Linked DNA regions of Homo sapiens. The protein of the gene in region 3 purifies or fractionates together with the protein of the main gene of each other region. This does not show direct contact. Each region holds a gene or a part of one and is shown on either strand. Other genes may lie near its edges.

The links.
Region 1: the proteins of AGTR1 (region 3) and SLC6A8 purify together in Homo sapiens (affinity purification with mass spectrometry; 3 studies listed by BioGRID and IntAct, with this or other methods). This does not show direct contact.
Region 2: the proteins of AGTR1 (region 3) and ATP2B3 purify together in Homo sapiens (affinity purification with mass spectrometry; 3 studies listed by BioGRID and IntAct, with this or other methods). This does not show direct contact.

What each region holds. Positions count from the first base shown.
Region 1 is NC_000023.11:153,683,380-153,691,171, forward strand, and holds the start of SLC6A8 (sodium- and chloride-dependent creatine transporter 1), read left to right. Parts: upstream 1-4,546; 5' UTR 4,547-5,195; coding exon 5,196-5,457; intron 5,458-6,131; exon of another isoform or gene 6,132-6,220; intron 6,221-6,995; coding exon 6,996-7,127; intron 7,128-7,792. UniProt on the Homo sapiens protein: Creatine:sodium symporter which mediates the uptake of creatine. Plays an important role in supplying creatine to the brain via the blood-brain barrier.
Region 2 is NC_000023.11:153,576,266-153,583,675, forward strand, and holds the end of ATP2B3 (plasma membrane calcium-transporting ATPase 3), read left to right. Parts: intron 1-3,712; coding exon 3,713-4,033; 3' UTR 4,034-6,664; downstream 6,665-7,410. UniProt on the Homo sapiens protein: ATP-driven Ca(2+) ion pump involved in the maintenance of basal intracellular Ca(2+) levels at the presynaptic terminals. Uses ATP as an energy source to transport cytosolic Ca(2+) ions across the plasma membrane to the extracellular compartment.
Region 3 is NC_000003.12:148,700,795-148,708,416, reverse strand, and holds part of AGTR1 (type-1 angiotensin II receptor), read right to left. Parts: intron 474-7,622; 5' UTR 390-473; intron 1-389. UniProt on the Homo sapiens protein: Receptor for angiotensin II, a vasoconstricting peptide, which acts as a key regulator of blood pressure and sodium retention by the kidney.

The sequences.
Region 1 (7,792 bases), on a different chromosome or scaffold from region 3:
TCCACCCATGTTGGCCTCCCAAAGTGTTGAGATTACAGGCATGAGCCACCGTGCCCAGCCCTGAAGGCTAGGTTTTTTTTTTGAGACAGAGTCTCACTCTGTTGCCCAGGCTGGAGTGCAGTGGCACAATCTTGGCTCACTGCAACCTCCACCTCCCGGGTTCAAGCGATTTCCGGCTAACTTTTGTATTTTTAGTAGAGACAGGGGTTTCACCATGTTGGCCAGGCTGCTCTTGAACTCCTGACCTCAAGTGACCCACCCGCCTGGGCCTCCCAAAGTGCTAGGATTACAGGTGTGAGCCACCGCACCCAGCCCGAAAGCTAGGATTTTTTAAAGATAGTTTGGCGGACAGGGGGCTAGGGAATGGGTGCTGCTGACTGGTTGGGTGGGGGATGATTCTTGTGTGCTGAGCTGAGTCTGCTTTTAGGTAGGGCCACAGGACCTTGAGTCATAGGTCTATGTGGTCCGGGTGGAGCCATCTGGTAGTGAGAAATGCAAAAACCTGCAAAGACGTCTCAAAAAGCCAACCTTAGGTTCTACAATAGTGACATTATCTACAGGAGTAATTGGAGAAGTTACAAATCTCTTGAGCTCTGAACAATGGCTGGTCATCATGAATGCTTCCATGTTAGCAGAATTCAGGCCCCTCTCATCCTCCTCACCTGATGGCCTTTCATTACTTTTACAAAGGCGGTTTCATCTTGGGAAGGTCTGTTATCATTTAAACTATAAACGAAATTTCTCCCAAAGTTAGCTTGGCCCATGCCCAGGAAAGACCAAAAACAGTTTGGAGGGTAAATGCAGACAGGGTTGGTTAGATCAGCTCTCTCACTGGCAGAATTTTGTTACTGTTACAGTTTTTGCAAGGCAGCTTTAGGGTGATGGGTCTGCACGGAATATATGCATGTAACAGAACCGCGCTTGTACCCTCTCAATCTATAAAACAAATAAAACCAGCCTAATAAAAGTTTACATAAAATGTAAAAAACAAAGCAAAGCCTCCTTTCTGCGGGTCTGTGTAAACGAGCACAGCTGGTGGGAAGGGCGCGGGTGGGGGGTTCTGCTGCCCCCCATCCCTGCCCTGCTGCAGGCCCTCGCCCCCAGCCCCATTCTTTCTGTTCTCCGCTTGGCTGCAGCCGCACGTCGGCCCCCTCCCCAGGAGCTGGAAGTACAAAGCCCTTCCAGGTGGACTCTGGCTCCCCCTTTGTTCCCAGCTTATTCTAATTCCAAAGCTCATTGTGCCCGGCTCGCCTTCAGAAGAGGAGGCGCCCCCATCCTGTCTCCAGCTGCCCATCCTCCCAGGATAACCAGTCACCCCAGGGCCCGGTGGCCCCTCACCCAGCCCCTCCCCGGTCCGCAGCTGCCCTAGGCTTGAGTGGGCGCTGGCTCCAATTCTCAGGCCTCCCCCAACAAACAGGAGCATTCCGGCTAGCCCCCCTCCCCTGCCCTCCCCCCAGCTCCCCTTCTCCTCCCCTCTCCCTCCTCCTCAGCTCCTACTCCAACCCCCCAGCCCCAGCTGGGGCCTGAAAGGCTGCCCACTCCCTGGGACACGGTAAGGGGAGGGTGCAGCTCTCCCCCCGCCCCTCCCCGGTCGCCTCTGCCCCAGAGAACAGTTTGCTTCTCACCCAGAAGCCACCATAGGAGCTCTGGGCTGGGCACAGGTCGCAGGGCACCCCCACCCCCTCCTGCACATGCTCGGAACCCCCCTTCAGTGAGTAGAACACAAGGGCCTGGCAAGACAGGCGGAGGCTTGGAAAGGGCTGGCGGGGGACAGCTACCCGGCCCTCAGCTGGGGGCCTGGAGAGCCCACCCTGCCCCTCCCCAGCAGCTGCTGCCCCCGGGCCGAGCCTGACGCGCCTTGACAAAGCCCGAGAACGCTTTGAAGCCTTCGGACGTGGGAGAGGACCCAGCCAGGGATGGAAATCGCTTTGCCTTTGTTCCCCCAACTGCTCAGCAGCTCGTGGGAGCAGCCTCAGAAGACCCTGTCACTGGCCGCCCGGGTCAGAGCCTGTGACAGAGACCAGAGCTCCGGCCGGAGCTCCCCGCCGGGAACTCCAGCCTTACCAGCCTGAACTTCATGCACTGCTCAAAGAGGCCCAGCTCGCCCTGGCTGGGCAGGGGCGGCTCCCAGGGTGGCCGACGTGGGGAGGGTTCCTGAACCTCCCTCAGGAGCCTCCTGGGACAGAGTCCTGGAGGTCAGCAGAGAAAGGGAAGCCCAGGCTGTGGGCCCCGCGTGGAGGGAAAACTCAGGGGGAACGCCCCGAGGCTGGGAGGGCACAGCCCCATCACACTCCATCTCGTAGTCTTGGAGAAAAATTTAGTTCTACCTCCAGGGCACAGAAAAGCCCAAAGAAGGGATGAGATAAAGGAGGGGCTGGTCAGATTTGTGCTTCAGGAGGGTCCCTCTGGCTGCTCAGAGAATGCAGTTTGGGGTCTGGCCCAGGCCGTGAGGAGGAGTTCACAGTCACTATGGGGTCCAGACCAGCTGGGGGCGGGAGGCAGGGCCTGGCCCAGGGGCTGGTAGTGGGTGCACCCCAGGCTGGGCTGGCAAAGGGCGGGGAAGAAGGTGGGTGTGGGAAGGGGTGGCTGCCTGGAGAAGAGCCCAGTTCCAGGAGGTCGTGGGAGTCAGGTATGGGGGCCCACTGGACCTCCCCTCAGATGTGGGGGCTCCCACTCCGAGGGTCCATGGAGCAGTGGCAGCCATTCTGGACAGCCCCCCACCCTTCACTTCTGTCTCCAGTACCCTCCAGCCTGGCCACCTCGCCCTCTGCCTCGGCCTCCTCTGATCTCACAAAGGCAGCAGCAGTCAGGGGTGGCGACTCCCTCATGATCCTGTCCCTGGCCTCGGAACCCACCGGAGGAGTAACCGCAGCAGTGGTCACTTCCCCAAAGTGCCATCAGCTCTCCTACATCCTTCTCGAGCCTCTGCTTTCTCTCCCTTCCACCCCCACCCCTTTGACAAGCAACATCTGAAAGTCTCCCCTGCCCGCGGCTCCCAGAGCTGTCTGGCCGTGGCCTGCACTCTCCCTCAAAGCGGCCCTCCCCCAGGTCACCGTCCTCCCTTCGATGACATCACGCGCCCACCCCGCACTCCTGCTGGGCTGAGGCCCTCCGAGCCTACTTCACCGGGTCCTCTTCTTTCTCTCAAAGGCAATGGGGTTTGCCTGTGGTCCAGCTGGGTTGGCCCTCTTCCCTCTGTCCTGGGTCCTTGAGTGGCCCCGCTTCTTTAGGCCATCTATGAGTCACTTCTCTAATGCCCCTGTCTCCAGACCAGCTTCAGTCAAAGGCTGGGCCAGAGAAGACCCTAGTGAGAAACTTCTGATGAGCAGTGTGACCTTGCCACCTCAGGGGTACCCACCCACCACCCCTGGTCTAAGCACAGGTGACACCGCCTGTCTCCCCCAACCACACACACCCCTTGAGGCTCCTCCTCCAAGCCTGGGTGGGGACACTGTCCCTCCCTCACCCAGCAAGCTCAATCTGGCTTGGGCCGGAACTGCTTTTCTTCCTAAAGCTGGACGGATGGCCGCGGGCTTAGCTTAACGGGATGAGCCATCTGGGGACTGCAGTGTCCACGATCAGATCAGGGAGCTTGAAGCTGAGGGGGGCACACTTTACCTCCCAGGCCAGGACAATGACCACTTCCTTCCCCACCCCACCCCCAGGCTACTCTTAGCCCTAGAAAATTCTAAACAAGCTGCTCAGCTGGCGGCGGAGAGGCAGCCCAACAAGCTGGCTCTTGCTAGGGAGGCCTGGGGGGTCCTGGGGAGAGGAACACGGGGTGGGTGGGGGGCGGGCAGCCAGGACCTCAGGCCTGAGGCCTTTGGGGAAGGGTCTGTGCACCTGCCAGGCACCAGGGGGCAGCCTTGCCTTGTTCCCGCTCCAGTCCCCTCAAGTCCGAAGCCCCTACCCACTCTCACGCCAGGCAGGGGTGGGGGCCGCCGGGGTCATTTACCCGGGCCCCTTCTCTGCCTTGATGACAAAGTCGAGGCTTGCTCATCAGCCAGGCAGGCTCCCCTCTGCCCACTGTGGAGACACAGAGGCCTGTCACCTGAAGAGCTGGTCCCGGCCTCCAGCTTCCAGGGTAGCCGGGAAGCTGTAGCCCCCAGTGGGCAGCGGTGGAGAGAGCTCAAGGAAGGAGGGAGCACCGGGAGGAGACGGCTGCAGCCTGCCAGGAGCGGGGAGAAAGGGAGAGAAGGGGAGGCGGAGGGCTGAGGGGGCCCGGGGGACGTCTTCCCAGGGCTGGGAGGGGCCGGCCGGGAAGCCTGGGCTGCACTAGGAGCCGGCGACCCTGGGGCGAGGGGCGGCCCGGAGCCCTGCGGGAGGAGCTGGCGGCCGCCCCAGGTAGCAACCATCCTGCCTCCCGCTGGAGCGGCGTCTCCTCCCCGGGAGGAGGGCAGGGAGGAGGTGGGCGGAGTGTGACGAGGAGGGCGGGAGGGAGGGATGCGGGAGGGGGAGGGGGAGGGGGGCCGGCCGGCCGTGGGGGTGGGGCGATAGTGACATCACCCCGGAGTCGGTTTTTAAGCGGCGGCCGGCCGGGGACGGGGAAGAGAGGGATAGTCGGAGCGAGGTGGCGAGTCGCTGAGCCCGCCGCGGCCCCGAGAGCGGCTGCAGCCGCCGCCGCCGGGAAGGAGAGGGCGAGGCGCGCCCGAGCCGCCGCCGCCGCCGCCACCGCCGCCGCCGCCACCACCGCCACCGGAGTCGCGGGCCAGCCGGGCAGCCTCCGCGGGCCCCGGCCGGGGCGGGGGGCGCGGGCCACAGGCCCCTGCTCCGGCCGCCGCTTGCAGACCGCGGGCGCCGATGTCGCCCGCGCCCCGCTAGGCTGAGCCTCGGGTCGGGCGAGGAGCCGCCGCAGCCGCCGCCGCCCGAGCCGCGGGCAGGAGCCTCGGGAGCCGCCGCCGCCGCCGCCGCCGCCCGGCCGGGCCCCGCCGCCGCCCGCGCGCCCCCGGGCCCCCGACACACATGAGATTCTTCAGGCTCACTTTCAAGTGCTTCGTGGACTGCTTCTGACTGCGCCGCCCGCGCCCCGCACCCCGCCGCCCGCCCGCCGCCCCGTCCCCCGGCCCGGCCGCCCCCCGGCCCCCGGCCGGCCCGCGCCCTCGGGGCCCTCCCCGGTGCCGCCGGTGCCCCCCGCCTGACCGCCGCCCCCCGTGAGGCGCCGCGACCCCGGCCCGGCCGTGCGGCCCGCCGAGGCCATGGCGAAGAAGAGCGCCGAGAACGGCATCTATAGCGTGTCCGGCGACGAGAAGAAGGGCCCCCTCATCGCGCCCGGGCCCGACGGGGCCCCGGCCAAGGGCGACGGCCCCGTGGGCCTGGGGACACCCGGCGGCCGCCTGGCCGTGCCGCCGCGCGAGACCTGGACGCGCCAGATGGACTTCATCATGTCGTGCGTGGGCTTCGCCGTGGGCTTGGGCAACGTGTGGCGCTTCCCCTACCTGTGCTACAAGAACGGCGGAGGTGAGTTCCCCCGCCCGCCGCGGCCTCCTCCCCCAGCAGGCCGCCGGCCCCCGCCCGACCCCCGGAGCCGCCGCGGAGGGGTGAAGTCCGGGCAACGGGTGGCCCCCGGGCACGCGGGGGTCGGGGCCGCCCCTCGTCCGCCGCTGCCGCTCGGTGGCCGGGCCGGGCGCCTCCACCCCCCTCGCAGTCATGTGCCTGGCATGGTGGGGGGAGGGGGCCGGCGATGCCCGCGAGGCTGCCCCCCAGACTCCCGGGCTGGGAGGAGCGATTGGCCGCCGAGGTGGGAAAGCAGGCCTGCGCCTTGGGGTCTCCGCGAGGTAAGGAGCCCTGGCTGCCCCCACGGGTCGGGCACACAAGCGGCACATTGTGTGGGCCCCCCACGTGTGCACACACACGAACACACACACACACAATGGGCCACTCTGTCCCTCCCCCTGCCCTCCCCTCCCCTCGCGGCCCTCCCGCCCCTCCCCTCTGGCCCGGGCCTGGAACACTGGGTGCCCGAGCCAGGCTTGGGAAGCCTGCGGCCTGGCCCGCCTGGCGCCGCCACTGGACACACTGCATGCACGTCCCATGCCCGCCCGCCCGCCCGCCCGCCCGGGCCCAGCTTAGCAACAGCGATGGGCACGCGTGTGTCCTGTGACTACAAAACAGCACTGGGGTTGCTGGAAGCCGAAGTGACCCGGTGATGGGTGGGAAACAGAGGTCCAGAGCAAAGGCCTTTGCCCAAGGTCAGGAGAAGGATGCTGGGACCTGGAGTCAGGCAAGTTGCAGCCAAGCTCAGCCTCTGAGTAGTGGAGCGAGCCCAGCCAGGGCAAGGGTAGGAGGCCCAGAGAGGAGAAGGGGGTAGTGGCACCCAGCTCTCCCTGCCCTTCTGCCACCCCCACCCCAGCCTGCTGGCCTCAGGAGATAGGCCTGTGTCACGCCCTGCCTATCTCCTGCAGAGCCTGACTCCCTGGCCTTGCTAAGGCCGGCCTGGCCCCTCTTCCGCACCTGTATCCCTCTGTCCTTGCACATCGCCATCCCACCAGCAGGGGACTGTGACCCACCCACCCTCTGCCTTAGACCTCACACTTGCAGGCAAGCGTCCAAGGGCAGGACAGTCGCGCTCCCTGCCTTTGGATGAGCCCCCCAGGCCTGATCACCCAGCCTTGGCACACATGCACACATGCACGTGCCCTCACTGTGCTGCCTGAAACAGGGAATTGCAGCACTAGGGACAGCCCGCGTGTCTGAGCGTGTGTGTCCTCCATGGCCATCGCCCCAAGTGACCGTGGGGGTGGAAGCCCTGGGGGCCTAGGGCCCCTCTGCCACCCAGGGAATAGGGCTCCAATGGCTCAGGGGCTACTGTAGCCCCTCTTCAACACACTCAACCCACCCCCTCAAGACTCCACCTGGGGCCTGAGTCAGTGGCCACCCCTACACTGACTCACCCAGTCGGAAGTTGTGATGGGGCCTTTGGAGTCTGGGCTGGCCCGCTGGGCCTGGGCAGCCTGGCTGGGGGCCACCCTGAGTCCACGCTGTGCCTCCACCCCCAGGTGTGTTCCTTATTCCCTACGTCCTGATCGCCCTGGTTGGAGGAATCCCCATTTTCTTCTTAGAGATCTCGCTGGGCCAGTTCATGAAGGCCGGCAGCATCAATGTCTGGAACATCTGTCCCCTGTTCAAAGGTGAGCAGCCCTTGGCCAGCCTCAGGGACTGCCCCCTTCTCCCAGCTGGCTCCCACTTGAGAAATCTTTTCCTGTCGTGAGCACCAGGCCTGGGGCCACGTGATGGCGTCCCAGTCTCGAGGGGGGAGCCTGGAGGAGATGTTCAGGCCGCACAGCGAACTTGGGGAAGCGGGGACTAGAGGGGGCATAGGCAGCTCCACAAGGCAAGGACAGGCCAGGCATAGCCGGGCTGGGGACGGGACCTGCCCAGCAGCACCCTTGGCTCTCTAGGTAGGTCCTACTGTTACTATCCCCAAGGACGCTGGGGCACAGACAGGTGGAGCGACGTACTGAGGTTGCCCACTGCAGGGGCGACTGTCTCCAACACTACCTCAGGCGACTAGAAACCCCCCCCCCCCACCACCACCATCAACACCAGCTGCTGAGGACTGGAGGCTACTGGGTGGCCAGGCAGAGGCTTGGACCTCCTGGAACCGCCATGGTGGCAGTGGGACCCACAGAAGGGGCCAGGTGTATGAGGCTGGAGACTCCACAGCACTTGGTCAGATGGGGACAGGAGGAGAGGGGCTCGCTCTGCCTTGGGTCTAGGGGGCGGCTGGAGGAGAGGAGACAGGCTGGGGAGTCAGCGCAGTGTTGGGGCTCACACAAGGGGGAGCCCAGGGGAG
Region 2 (7,410 bases), on a different chromosome or scaffold from region 3:
GGTCCCAATGTGACCCCAGGGCCCCAGGCAGGACATAGCAGCAGCAATGGAGGTGAGGAGAGGCTCAGATGTGGAAGATGCTTTTGAGTTAGGGTAGGGCCCACAGGACACGTGGATGTCTGGTACATAGGGTCAGGGGGTCAAAGTGCCTCTGAGGTTTGGCCAGAGCCCTGCACTGGGATGGGAAGGCTGCTGGTGGGCAGAGTTCAGCTGGAGCACTGATAAGAGTCCTCCTCGGGCCTCCTGCAATTTGAGAGGTCCCTTAGGCATCCGAGGGGGAACACCCGGGAGGCAGCCAGGGCAGAAGTCTGGCAGTCCAGGAAAAGGTGGACATGGTGCAGCTGGTATCTGCAGTATTTACGGTGGCCTGATGGTCTATAGACAGCATTGACAGCCCTGGGGGCCATGAGATTCCTTTGGGAGCAGTAGGGGGCGTGGCGCGTCCTGGGCTGAGAGCAGAGCAGGAGGCGGTGCAGGAGCCTGAGATGAGGACAGAGTGAACCCAGGCTGGTGGAAGGAGGGCATCCTTGAGCACCCAGGTAGGAGTGCAGCCCTCTGGGATGGGCCTCTCTTAGAAACGTTTGTTGCTTTCCATTGAACCAATCTCCCAGGAATCGACTGCATCCTTCAGTGTTGGGTGGGCTGAAAACACCCCACCTTAACACCAACACCAAAACATTGTTTAATGGCCCAGGATTAGGATGCAGGGAAAATAGAGCCTGGAGAAAGCTGACTCACTGTCAGCTGTAACAGACTCACCAGGACTCCAGCCAAGCTTAGCACCCCCAAACAGCAGAATGTTGGGGGGCAGCCCTTCCATCCTGCAGCGGTTCACTCAGTCACTTGTGCATTCCCCAAGTGTCTGCTGAGCAGCTGCTCTGGGCCAGGCTCTGTTGTTAAGCCACAAACAAGGCAGATGCCATCCGGGAGGGGCACGCTGGAGTAGCCGGTGAGACCGGAGGAGCAGTAGCAGCAGAAGCCCAGCCTGGAAGGAAGGGCTGGCTCCGTGGCCTGGCTGTCCTTTATGGAGGTCTTTGGAGTTGAGCCAGGTGCAGTGAGACCTGTGCATAGGTTTGAGCAGGGGCCTGGCCTGATCACATGCCCCCAGGTCTGAATGAGGCCACCAGCTCAGCGAGATCTCACCCCACACAGCCCTGGGGTCAAGGCCTGCAGCACTTTGTCCTTTTTGTGACTTGATGGGCAACAGCTTTAGCAGGCGATGTCCCAGGCGGCTTCCACACCACAATCCTGTACCAGAAAAGGCCTAAATAATGAGGCAACATCTGCATTGGCTACGAAAACTGAATTCTGTTTCTTTTCATTAAAAACGTCAAATTATTCTCAATTTCTGTGTTACCCCTAATTCAGAAACCAGTCTGGGGATAAAGGCCTGAGTGAGAATAGCTGACCATCTGCCGTCTGGCAGATGTGGCTTTCCCGAATGCAGAGAAAATCCGAACCAGATTTCAGATGGGGTGCTAGAAAATTCCAATGTGGAGCTTTTTGGCTTACTTTTTTTTATTATTATTTTAAATAGGAACGGGGAGTATCACTCTGTTGCCCAGGTTGGTCTCGAACACCTGAGCTCAAGCGATCAGCCCGCCTCGGCCTCCCAAAGTGCTGGAATTACAGCCGTGGACCACCAAACCTGGCCCTGGCTCACTTTTTGCACTGGAGAGGTGATGAGGTTGGCATCATTTCAGCTGATTCCGAAGCACTGTGCTTTGCCTAGCTGAGCCCCTGGAGGGCTGAAAGAAAGTCACCGAAAAAAGGTGATTAATTGTCTAAACGACAGAGCCAGAGAGGAAATATTTTTAGCTTTCCAGGCCTGGTCTCTGCTGCCGTGACACAACTGTGCCCTTACAGCATGAAACTTAAACCAGTAAAATTTTATTAACCAAAACTAGCAGAGAGCTGGGGTTAGCCCCTCAGCAAGCCCTGACACCTTGTCTAAACCCAGAAAACCAAATCCTAGGTCGAACCTTGGCCCCAGAAATGCTTCAGAACTCCTAATGTGTCCACCTGCTCACATAGGCAGGGGTGGACAGGTGTTGGATGAACCCCAGGGTCTGCCTGGCAGCTCAGCGCTCCGTCTGCTGCCCCCTATAGGGATGGCAGTACAAGGTGGGCCAGCTACCATTGGCGGCTGTGCTGACACTGGCCTGTGCGAGGCCAGGCAGAGGCCTCCCCATCAACTCCTGGCTTCTAGAAGCAGGAGGGGGCCCAGGCTGAGGGGCCAGGGAGCAAAGAGAGGCAGCAAGGACTTGAGTGCGTGAGGCAAGGTGGAGAAGCCAGAGGAGGGAAGGGCTCGCTCCTGGAGCAGTGCCCTGCCGGAGGGTCAGGGGGCTTAAGGGCTGCCGTGCGCTCAGCTGGGGGCAGAGGGCCACTGTGCCGGGGGAGTCTGGGGCACAGCGGGAGCTCTTTCATGCGGGAAGTTCCGCTGATCTGAGGTCTGCAAACTCCTGTGGGGAGGGATGGCCAGGGAACAACACAGAGCGGAGCCCGGGAGGCAGCAGAGACGCAAGTTTTGGAATGTCTGACTGGAAGATGGAGGAGGAGACGGGAGAGAGGACAGGCGGAGTGAGGTCAGAAGAGCAGGGGCACCAGATTGAACCAGACCCAGTCAGACACGGGGGCTGTGAGGAGGCCACAGGGGCATCTGAGCAGAGACAGGCTTTAGTGGGTGCAAATCAAAAGTGTGGCCATTTTCGGTCTCAGATACCTCCAGCTGGGGACTGCTGGGCTCTCTGGCCTGGAGCTCTGAGTACAGGCCTGGGCCACAGTTTCTGGTTATAGCCAGATGGGCCCCAGCACTGTGGCCAGGGTGGAGAGGTATGGACAGAGAGGAGGAGGGACAGAGCCAGGCCAGAGCTCTGGGGCACCCAGGGACAGAAGAGAGGGCAGTGGAGGAGATGGGGCCAGGGCAGCTGGTGAGGTGGAAGAGGGCCAGGCAGGGGCAATGTCAGGAAGCCATGAGAAGCTTCCAGAAAGAGGGATGATCTTCTGTGTTGAGTGCCCTGAGGGATCAAATCAGACGAAGATGCAGAAGTGGCCAGTGGAGTTAGCCGCAGGGAGACCCTCGACATGGCAGGTCCCGGCTCCAGCCATGGGAGCTGGGGGATGGAGGGAGACCCATGCGAGAAAGGCCGGCAGTGCCCATAGGCTGGGAACTTGCTCATACCAGCAGGTACTTCGGACTTTCTGGTAAGATCGAGAAGACATCCCACTCACCAGCATTCTCTCCTTTTCAAATCATCTTTCTTTTCTACCAAATTGGAATTCAGATTGGGCAGAGACCCCAGAGGTCACCAAAGCCACTCGTCTCCCCAGGACAGGGAACTGCGGGGTCACAGCCAAGAGCCTAGTGCAGCACTCTCAAGTTCCAGAATACCTGCCCAGCTCAGCCTAGAGAAAGACACTGCCATCTTTTCCTGCATGCGGATCGGTTGACGAGACCAAGGCCCACACCTGAAAACTCTTTCCAAAGGCAGGCAGAGCCATCCCATTCCGTAGCAGCCCTCCAACAAATGGGTGGACATTTCTCATGCCATGACCCCCAGCCATTGACGTGGGTGGAATTTACCAGCACCAGCCGGCCACTGACTGTCTCCTTCCTTCCTTCCTACCTTCCTTCCACGTTTCCTTTCCTTTCCCTTCCTTTCCTCCCTCCCTGCTCCCACCTCGCGCCCTGTCCCTCCACCTCCCACTCCAGATCCGGGTGGTGAAAGCGTTCCGTAGCTCGCTCTATGAAGGCCTGGAGAAACCAGAATCCAAGACCTCCATTCACAACTTCATGGCCACGCCCGAGTTTCTGATCAATGACTACACCCACAACATCCCGCTCATTGACGACACGGACGTGGACGAGAACGAGGAGCGCCTCCGGGCCCCCCCGCCCCCGTCCCCCAACCAGAACAACAACGCCATAGACAGCGGCATCTACCTGACCACGCATGTCACCAAGTCAGCTACCTCTTCAGTGTTTTCCTCCAGTCCCGGGAGCCCGCTCCACAGCGTGGAGACGTCCCTCTAACAAGAACTTGTCTCAGCACATGCGCACACGCACACTCGGACTCACACGAAGTCACACGCACACATGCACGCACACACACATATGGGGACCTGCACACCTGCAAAACGAGGGAACAACTAAGGTGGCTGAAGACCTTTCTGGCAGGGCATTTGCAAGGACCCAAATCCATTCAACAAGGGTGCAGCCTGCCACAGGCTCCTCATCCGGACTGAGGAAGACGAGGACAGGGAGGAGGAAAAGGAGGAAGAGGAGGACAAAAAGGGGGAGGAGAAGGTTCTTCGTCCAAAGGAGGAAGGAGAAGAAGTAGAAAGTGCGAAGAGCTGAGTTCCCCACCTTTTTTTCTATTGATGCTTCTTTTTTAACAAACTACAGTTTTACCGTGTGTTTGCCATTTGAGCTGTGTGGTGGGCAGGGGGCTGGTTTGGGTTTATGGGGAGCTTTTGTTGCACCCATGCAGGGGCAATCAGATCAGCATCTTCATGCAAAAAAAAAAAAAAAGTTGAGTGCTCTGCAGGCCTGTGAAGGGTGCCACCTGAGGGAGCCGCCTGCAAGCGGCCCTGCAGCCACAAAGCAACCCGCCCTCTGCAAAAACTAGGCACATCCGCAGTGCGCATGTGTGTGCGTGCATGCACATATGTGTATGTGTGTGGATCTGTACACACACACGTATATATGGCCAGATGCGTATTTCAATAAGGAACTATTTACTGGCATGATATTTGCATTCCTCTTATCAGGCATTTTCATTTGGAAATTTCATTATTGAATGTAGCAAGGTTGTAGTTGTTTTTTTTTTTTTTTCAGGGAACTAGACTGCAAGAATATCTTTCTGGTCAACCCATTTTTGTCCCTCATCACCCCGCCCCCACCTTTCGCTCCTGCCCTCTGCCCGGCCCTACTGAGATTCCCAAGGAGAAGGCCGAGAGGGGGCGCTCCAGGTCTGGAGCAGGTATAATTGGAGCATTTGCACTGAGACCCCTGCCAGAGAGGAGAAAACCCTTTCAAGGGAAATTTTAATCTAAAAGGAAAAAACCAAAATATTGATGAGAAGGAGTCCTCCAGTTAGTGAAAGGGGAGTTTCGTTTTCAGCTTTCTTTGGTTCCTACTCCAATTCCACATCCTTCATCCTGGCCATGCCCCCACCTTCAAGAGCATGAAGCACTCTTGGAGTTGTGGGTCCTGCCCAGAGTCCAGAGAGCAGCCTCAGCTGAGCACAGGTCCGAGGGGGCGGGGGCAGGGCCAAGAGTTCAAAAGAAGCCAATGGAGGGAGAGGGAGCGTCAGAAGCCCGGAGGAGCTGGTGGTGGGAGAATGACGGCAGGGACGCAGCCACAGTTCAGACCCTGTCCCCTCAGCACCTGGATGGACTCCCACTGTTTGCTTTGGCAAATGCCGAGGAGTCCTCGGTAGACCACCTTGATGTCTGCTGTGACATCAGAGGTGCCACCACCAAAGCACTCTTCCCACCCTAGTCTTTGTGTCCAGCGGCCAAGCTTAAGCCATGAAGTCATGGATTTGTGGCTCAGCACCAGGTCCTGAGGGGAGCGTATCCTGGCAGTGTGGGCACCTGGTGGCCAAGCCTCAGTTTCCCCCAAATGAGCAAAGGGGATAAAGAGGGGCCCGACTTTTGCCACCCTCCTGAGGAAGCCCCTAGGTCCACACAGTGATGCCATGGGGGACCCTTGCCTTCCACACTTGCAGGTGTCACGTTTTGCAGGGAGGTGTTTGGGCCTTGGGCTCAGCCACTGGGAGACAGTTGGGACCTGAGGGACAGAGGATCGGAATGGAAACCACCAACGTGCACTGGCACCCTCAGAAGGCTTGTCTCACCTCCACCGGCATCCACACAAAACCAAACAGGAGCAGGCGTCATCCCCACTATTCCCATGAATGCCATGTCACCCCTGAGCAGAAGCAGTCAAATCTTGGGCAAAAGAATTTCGGTTAGAAAAGAAAATCCCACTTTAAAATGCCAGCTGCAGATAACTCAAAGCCATCCCTTTTTTCTAAAGGGCACATTGAGAATGTCACCCATTTGTAAACTGTTCCCTGATGTCCTTGTTTAAACGATAATAAGAAAAAGGGCAACTCCATTTGTTGAGGGTCTTTGTGTTCTTCAATGAGAAATCAAATTTGAGACGTTGAAATTGGAGCTGCGTGCTGCTGCACTCACCGGCTTCTTCTCACTCTCTGTCGTAGACACACCGATAGGACCAATGGCCAATAGATATTAAAAGCAAACCCTCACTGCTGCTGTATAAAGTTGCCTAATGTAAATGTCTATTGTTTAGTCCCTAGGTCACCTTTGTGCTGTGCTGTGGAGTTCAGAAACGGGGTACCATGACCTGGAATCTTTTGCTCTTGTTTTTGCAGTCTTCAAGGCTGGGGGCCCTGTCTCATTGGGAAGCCCCTCTTTATAAAGCATTATATTACTTGGAATGGCTTGGTCAACTGTGTTCAGTTCATAAATATGTTTTACATTTTTATCTGCCTGTTATAAAGATGAACAAAAAAACTTAATGAGAAAGATCACAGATACGTAATAATTTAAAGTCTGTAGTTGAATTTCCTAACTTAAAGAATAGACCAAAATTTCTGTGTATAAAAAAAAATGAAAGGCTCCTTACATCCTGGTCTGGGTAACGTGTGTGATTTATTATTTGGTGAATTATTGTGCAGAACAAAACAAAGGTGCCTTCATGCCTCTTTAACAGAGCTGGAGAAGCCCCGGGCAGGAGGGGCTTTCCCCTGGGTGTGCAGCAGCCTGGCCGGATGTGTATGCAGAAGAGGAACTTATGCTGGGATGTTAGGCCCCCAGTGGGAGGGGCTCCAGCTGCTGCAGGAGCCGCGGCTGTCTTGACTTGAAAGGGCCTCTAGTACACGGCGCGGTGGCTCAGTCCTGTAATCCCAGCGCTTTGGGAAGCCGAGGCGGGAGGATCCCTTGGGCCCAGGAATTTGAGGCTCCCCGACACACATGCACGCTCCCCACTTCTTTTATTGTGGTAGAACACAGATCACATAAAATGTACCACGTTCACCATTTGTAAGTGTGCGGCCCAGGGGCAGAAGCACATTCACGGTGCTGTGCAGCCATCACCACCGTCCAGCCGCAGAACTTGTTCATCTTCCCAAACTGAAGCTCTGGCCCCGTTCAACCCCAACTCCCCACCCCCCAGCCCCTGGCACCCAATCTTCTACTTTCTGTCTCTATGGATTTGACCACTCTAGGCCCCTCATAGAAGTGGAATCCTACAGTATTTGCCCTTCTGTGACTAGCATGATGTCCTCAAGGATCATCCATGTGGAAGCATGTGTCAGAATTTCCTTTTTAAGGTGAATCATACTCCATTGTCTGGATATGCCACATTTTGCTTATGCA
Region 3 (7,622 bases):
CCAAATCGCCCAGGAAGTAGCTGACAAGAGAGTACAATCATTTCCCTTCTGGTCCTCTTAAGCCCTATACAGGAAGAACACTGCTCAAAGGAATCACCTGTGGCCATGTGGAGTCCTTGCCAAAGGACTTTCTCACATGATTCATTATCAGTACATGAATGGAAATAGCTTAGTAATTCTGATGTTATTTATGTTTAAAACCATATAAATACAAACGCTCTTAATCTGTATATTGGAGGGGATGTGGTAACACTGGGATTTCATTATTTTCTGCTTCCTCTACTTCTTTCACAAGATAATGGTGTGTGTGGGTTTTTGCGCTCTCCCCACTGCTGACACATTAAAGAAAACTGCTGACAGACCCACTGCTGTAGATGTAAGGCATTTACCTGGTGCCGACTTTCTGGGATGGCATCAGTGAGTTATTCAGATAAAAACCCAGCCATTTTAGATCAATTTGTCAAATATCAAACCTAAAAAGAAAAAAATGATTAACGCATTCCACTGAATATAGTCAGGTTTTTATTTTTTAATTTACAGAGTAAGCTTCCACACTGCATCTTAAGAGTGTTTTTGAAGGGAGTGAAACCATCTGGTTCACATCAAGAACATATTTTTCCTTATATAGAGCTAGACTGCATTAAGTGGTGGGCACAGGATCTCATCATCTTCCTGCCTGTGGTCAACATCTTCCCCAATGCCCTTGTAGATATACATTAGGCAAAGAGAAAAAGAACGTTTTAGGGTAAAATAGTGCAGTCTCATTCCTAGCCATTTCTTTCTATAGACATGTAAGAAATGTCTATAAATGTAAGAATATGAAAATAGATTGGATTTTTACTTGTGAATCTACAGCTAAACTTAAATGATTCTATTACTTAGTATAAAGCTTATGCACATTTTATTGTACCATAATTTAAAAAATACCTTTTTAAAAGATTACCTTTTCTGTTTTTCTTTTTCCCAGAAGTAATGCTAACGCGTCGTATAAATGTCAAGTTACAGAAGGATGTAAAATAAAAGTAAACATATCCTTACCCTCTATTACTTTTCTCTGCATTTACTTCCCAGAGGTACTACTAATAGTTACCTATGTCTCCTTCTAGGACTTGTATACACATGCATATAAATATGTATATTCATAAAAAATGCATACACATGCATATAAATATGTATATCTATAGTTTTTTCTTTTTGTACATCATAGTATTTTCTTCTTTGTTTCATTTATTTTACTTATGATGGCTAGCAGATTTCCTACATCAGCATATATAAATCTACCTCATTCATTTTGATGGCTGTACAATATTTCATTCATTGTACTCACACATAGTTTATTTAACCAGTCTGCTATTAATGAGCCTTAATCTTTTTTTTCAGTTTTCCTTTTGGCTGCTACAAAAATGTCCCAATAATAATATTTACATATATGCACTTTTGTACTTATATGAATGTATCTATATAATAAATTCTAACAGACTGTTGAACCAAATTGTTTGTATATGCTAAGTTTTTGATAGATATTCATAAAATGTCCTCCGTTAAGGTTATACCAATTTATAATACCAAGAATCTGGGTTTTATCAAATCATTTTTTCTTTATCTGATAAGTAAAAGGTATATCTTTGTTTTGACTTGCATTTCGTTAATTATGAATGAGGTTGAACTTCTTTTCATTTTCTTATTGTTTCCATAGTAATTCTTCTACGAGTTTTCTCAGCCATGGCTTTTGCTCATGTTTCAATTAGGTTGTTTATTGTTTCTCACATTAAAGAGCTCATGTTATGTTAAGGAAACTTAAATTTTACATGTAATGGCTGGCAAATAGCTTTCCCAGGTTTCTTGTTTAGATGATAACTTTGTTTATGGTACTTTTTACTGTATAAGCATTTATTTTTATGTAGTCAAATTCATCAGTATTTTTAATTATATATAGGAGGATTTTTTAAATAAGAAATTTATTTAAAGTTGAAGAGTTATTCAAGAAGATTGTATATAGGTTAATTTTTAAACCAACTTTAGCATACCAAGTTTAGCATTTAGGCATACCAACTTTAGCACTGTTATACAGAATAATGTTAGCATTGGAAGGATCTATTAACAAAAGAAAGTTCCCATAAAATGATTTCTTCTATAAAATATCATGACCGTGTGAATTCTGTGGACTCTTTGTGAGACACTAGTGTACCACAGGAAAAAAAAATGACAGAAAGGGTCAGATTTATAGTACCATTCTCCAGAGAGTTAATAGTAGTTGTCTAGTACCTAAAATCTAGAGTGAATTATAAATAAAGTAATAGAAATTCCAAGACAAATAGAAAGTAAAAAATATAAAATCAATAGAGATCCATTATAGAAAATTTTGTAGGTACATACAAAAGAAAGAAAGAAAAAAAATCATCCTCAAAAGCTCTTAAGATTTGTTGTATATTGTTCCTAATTTTTCTTATTGGCTCCACAGATATGCATGCATTTAAAAAACATGTAAGTGATTTTACTAACAAATCAATCCTAACATAATTAAATGAATTTCATTAAGATGCCAATAACCCAAGACCTTAATGGCACCTTGACAAGCATCTACCAGGTATACACATACATGGGATCACACTTACGATTCATATGTTATACAGTGATTTTTTCACTTACTACTATCTTTACTTGCCACTAAATATTTTAAAATATATAAATTATATATTACATTTTATATTTATACAAAATATATAACAACTGTAATGTTCTATCATATGGCTTAAGTTAATGGAAATTAAAAGGAATAGGAATAACTGTGTGTTCTCTCAAAAATCCACTCTGGTAACTCAGTAGATAATAGACCAGGACATACTCAAGAAATCATTACCCAAGAATCACATCTTTTTCATTCATGATAAAGTGGCAGCAATTAACTGTGTAACTGAGGGCTGGGAGACATCATGATAAAATGTGTTTTATATGAAGTGACATCATTTGAATGGGAGAGTTAGATTATTAAAGCTGGGTTAATGGAAAATTCTCATTCTAAGGGCAGGAGCATTTGAATTGATGGCAAGAAGAATTTGAGTCAAAAAGTAAAGTATATGTGTTGATGAAATTGTAAGTGTGAAGGAAAATATATGTGCTGATAAAGTTGTTAAGTATATGAAATTTACTAGAAAAAAATGCTATGCTACGAGAATTTTTCCAACTGTTAAAAAGAAAAAAATGCTATGCTATGAGATTTTTTCCAACTGTTAAAAAGAAAACCTTGTGCAGATTGCATTCAGCCACAGCCACAAATATTGGGGCTTAGTGAAACCAGGGGACTCTTAGGGGCTATAGAGGGTGATCACTGGTACTTTATTTTTTATTAGTACTAAGAAACTCTGCCTGCTATGTGTAAGATATCTTTTGGGTATTTCTCCTTCTTTCAAACTTCCACTACTTGTCATGATGGCAGCCCTGGATTGATTTTGCCCTAACCCATAACTTACAAATTAGATGTTGTAATGTCAGTGCTACCTGAATATCTACAGTTCTAGATTCAAGGAGCTGGTGAAATTTTATCTCCTACAAATTTTCTCAATACCATTGAAAAAGTGGCTGCTCAGTCCTGTTGGCACAGGTTTCCCCTCAAACATGATCCCAGGGAACCCATACACACCTGTCTTTTGACCAACATCAATAAGCCCCTGTCAAAACAGGAGATATTCGGACAGATCCAACTGATGGCTGTCAGAGAATCTACCTGCACTGGGTGAAACAGCTCAGGGACTGAATCATTTGGGGAGTCACTGGCTTGAGCATTGACTGGTTAGTAACTATATTTTACTACATTTTTGTAAACCATGCTTGTAGTAAATAAGCATTTATATTAAAAGCTGAAAAAGTAATATGTAATTTGAGTTGGAATGCTGAACAGTCTATGTGTATGTAGAAAACAGAAAATAACTTGTCCAATCCAAGGGAGAATTTACTTTATAGCATGAGAGCACCAAAAAGTAAACAGAAAATTTTGGATTTTTATGGGAAAAAATAGAGATATCAAAAGTTGTTATTATTATTATTATTATTCGAGACAGGGTCTTTCTCTGTTGCTCAGGCTGGAGTGCAGTGGTGTGATCATGGCTCACTGCAGCCTTCACCTCCCAGACTCAAGCAATCCTCCCAACTCAGTCTCCTGAGTAGTTGGGACTACAGGTCCCAACTACTACATGGTGTGCGCCACCATGCTCTGGCAATTTTTTATTTTTTGTAGAGATGGGGGTCTCAGTTTGTTGCCTCAGCTGGTCTCAAACTCCTGGCCTCAAGTGATCCTCCCAAAGTGCTGGGATTACAGGTCTGAGCCACCATACCTGGGCTCCAAAGTTAATTTTTAAAAGTATGTCATCTACTATTTTTTTAAAAAGCTTTATTGAAGTATAATTGATATACAAAAAGCATGCATATAAAAATATATTTTAGTGGATTTGGACAGGCTGTCATAGTTTTGGTATTTTTTCAAACAGTTAAAGAAGGAATTTCTAGAATTTCCCATTATTGCACTTAAAGGTAAGGTGACAGGAAAACATTAGATCAAAATGGAATAGATCTTGTTTGCTTTTTTTAAAAAAAATTTATGAGGGAAACAGATTTTGATCTCAAATTAAAACTTTAAATAAATTTTCAAATAATTAGTTGGCCTTAAAAAGTAGGTAGCCCAGTATAGAGCAGACACTGTAGGTAACAGCTAAGAGAACAGGCAATGAAATTAGAATTCTTATGTTTACATCTCGACTGTATCAGTTACAGCTTTTGGGTAAACTACTTATCTCATTATTACTTGGTATCCCAATCTATAAAATAAGGATAAAACAGAAACTATCTCACAGGGTTGTTGTGAGGATTAAATAAAAAAAATTTAAAGAAAGACTGAACGTTGTGTTTGGCACATTTATGTACTCAATAAATATTAGCTTTATTAAAAACGTTAGTTAAGAGCCAAGAAAACACCTCTTCATAATTATTCTAAACAAGCCACAGGTACGGTACACTGTGTTTCTTTTCCCTTAATGTGCATTTGAATCACCTGAGGATTTTGCTAAAATGCAGATTCTTATGCAATCAATGGGTCTGGACAGGGTCTGAGATTCTGCAGTTCCAACAAACTCTCAGGTGATACTCATGATGCTAATATGGGAACTGGGATACGTGAGATAATTTTAGATGGTTTCCTCCTAATTTGTAATACAATGTGTCTCAACAGGGGGAATGAGGACAGGGGGAGAAAAGAAGGTGTGGATGAAATGTACAGATTTCATATGCCCCCTGGGTGATTCCAGTATTCTTGTCTCACCTGCCTCTGTCATCTTAAGAACCACCGATTTGATATTTCAACCTTTTATTCTTTTTAATTTTTTCTTTCCTTACTCTTTTCTCCACTTTACCCTTGTCATTGCTGCTGTAGACTGAAAAACTGTATTCATGCTTAGCTCTTCAATTAGCAAGACAAAAGCATCAAATTTGTCATTGTGTGTAATAGGACAGTGTATCTAAATGAGATTAGAAAAATTATTTATTTCTTAACATTTCTTTTTTAAAATATAAAGGTCTGAAAATGTATTTAACATTTTCTGTAGTTTTAGCCAAAAACAAACAAATAAGCAACAAACAGGCAAGCAAGTGACTCCGTGGAACATTTAGTAAAAGAAAACAAGGATGCGTTAGGTGCCATCCATACTGTCAAAGGAGTTATAATCTCACGAGGAGGGGAAAGGAGCAGTGGTTATTACAGAAGTGGCCAGAACCAAACAGTGTGACCACTTTAGACACACCATCTGGTCTGAAAGGCAGGACAGAAGGAGGGGCCATTTTTAAATGGCTTCCCACCCTACTAGCATTAGGCTATTAGAGACCCATGCCAAAATATGTGCTTAGCTTGACTACTATCTCTCTACGGCAAAGACCATTTTTATACTTTGGCTTGTATCCTCAGGGCCTAATATCACTCAGATCCACAGTATTTCCTCTGTAAGTACCTGCAGCTGTTGTTGATATATTTTATAGACATAATTCTTCATTTTCCAAAGTAGATAAGAGGAGCTTTGACTAATATAGAATCAGAAAATATCTAAATAAACTTAGCAAATTAGCAACAACAAATTCTCTTTAAAAGTACAAAATCAGGCCAGGTGAGGTGGCTCATGTCTGTAATCCCAGCACTTTGGGAGGCCGAGGCAGGGAGATCACTTGAGGTCAGAAGTTTGAGACCAGCCTGGCCAACATGGCGAACCTCTTCTCTACTAAAAATACAAAAATTAGCTGGGCGTGGCGGCATGCACCTGTAATCCCAGCTACTAAGGAGGCTGAGGCAGGAAAATCATTTGAACCTGGGAGGCAGAGGTTGCAGTGAGCCGAGATCATGCCACTGCACGCCAGCCTGGGCAACAGAGCAAGACTCTGTCTCAAAAAAAAAAAAAAAAAAGGTACACAATCATATGTGTATTTCTCAATATTCTTATTTTGTACTTAAGCATACAGAGTACTTAAATCCATTGAACTAAATAAAATTTCTACATTATTTGGTGAAGATGAAGGCATCTATGTGTGTATAAGTGGACAAGAAATCACACAAAAGTTGACTTAAACTGAAAGATTATTAATTCTATGATTTTAAGTTTTAAGGAAATCTAGAATTGGGACTTGAAATAGGAAGGCACATTGTAATAATAGGAAACAAGGCACACTCATTTTTTACCCATTTTCCAAACTTTTAAATGTTAAAAAAATTACATGTGAGATTAACAACACAATAAAAACATTCTTGGTAATAGGAAGGAGACTGATAATCACTGAGAGATTCTAGACATTTGTTTCTACTTAAGACAGTTAGAGAATGCACCTATCGAAGAAACAAACACAAACAAAACAAAAACAAATTCAAACCCTTCTAAATTAACTATAAGAATAATGTAATCATACAGCATTTATACTACATAATGAATTTTTTGTTACTTAAATATTTTGGAAGACAATTTTGATTTTCATATGCAAGAAAGTTTTTCCTCATCTGAGCATCTGCTTTGATAAGAAGAAAAATCCCATAGCAAATATTTTAATGTTAATACAACCACAGCTAGCAGCAATAGTCACTAGTCCTTTTATGACTGTTCCAAACATATACTCTGTTTTCTATTTCCAGTTGTCTAATTTGTCACTAACGTAATAACTAGGGAAACATCTGGCAATTTATAGTTCTTTAAATTATAAGATTTTTTTTCTGTGATTGAAATATTGCATTTTAGAGCTTTAATAGGATAATGGTAGTCACTTGCCAATTTAGTTGAATATTACCTTAAGTCCCTATAGATATTCCTTGATTTAAGATGGCTTTATATATTAAGCTATTAAAAAGTTGATTTTTAGAAGCTAAAGTTCATATTATGAATAAAACAAAATGTAAAGTGATAGCTAAATTTAGGATACAAATCGATCAAATTTACTGTTGCTTATCAGAGATTGAGTATACTGCTTTAACAAGCAGCTACAGTGAAAAGAAACACAAACCACATAATCCAATGATCTTAGGCAATTTTGAAAAAGAAACATTAGGAGAATTTTGAAGGAAACTAATAGCATTTTCCAATCATCACGTGTTGGAAAGCTGA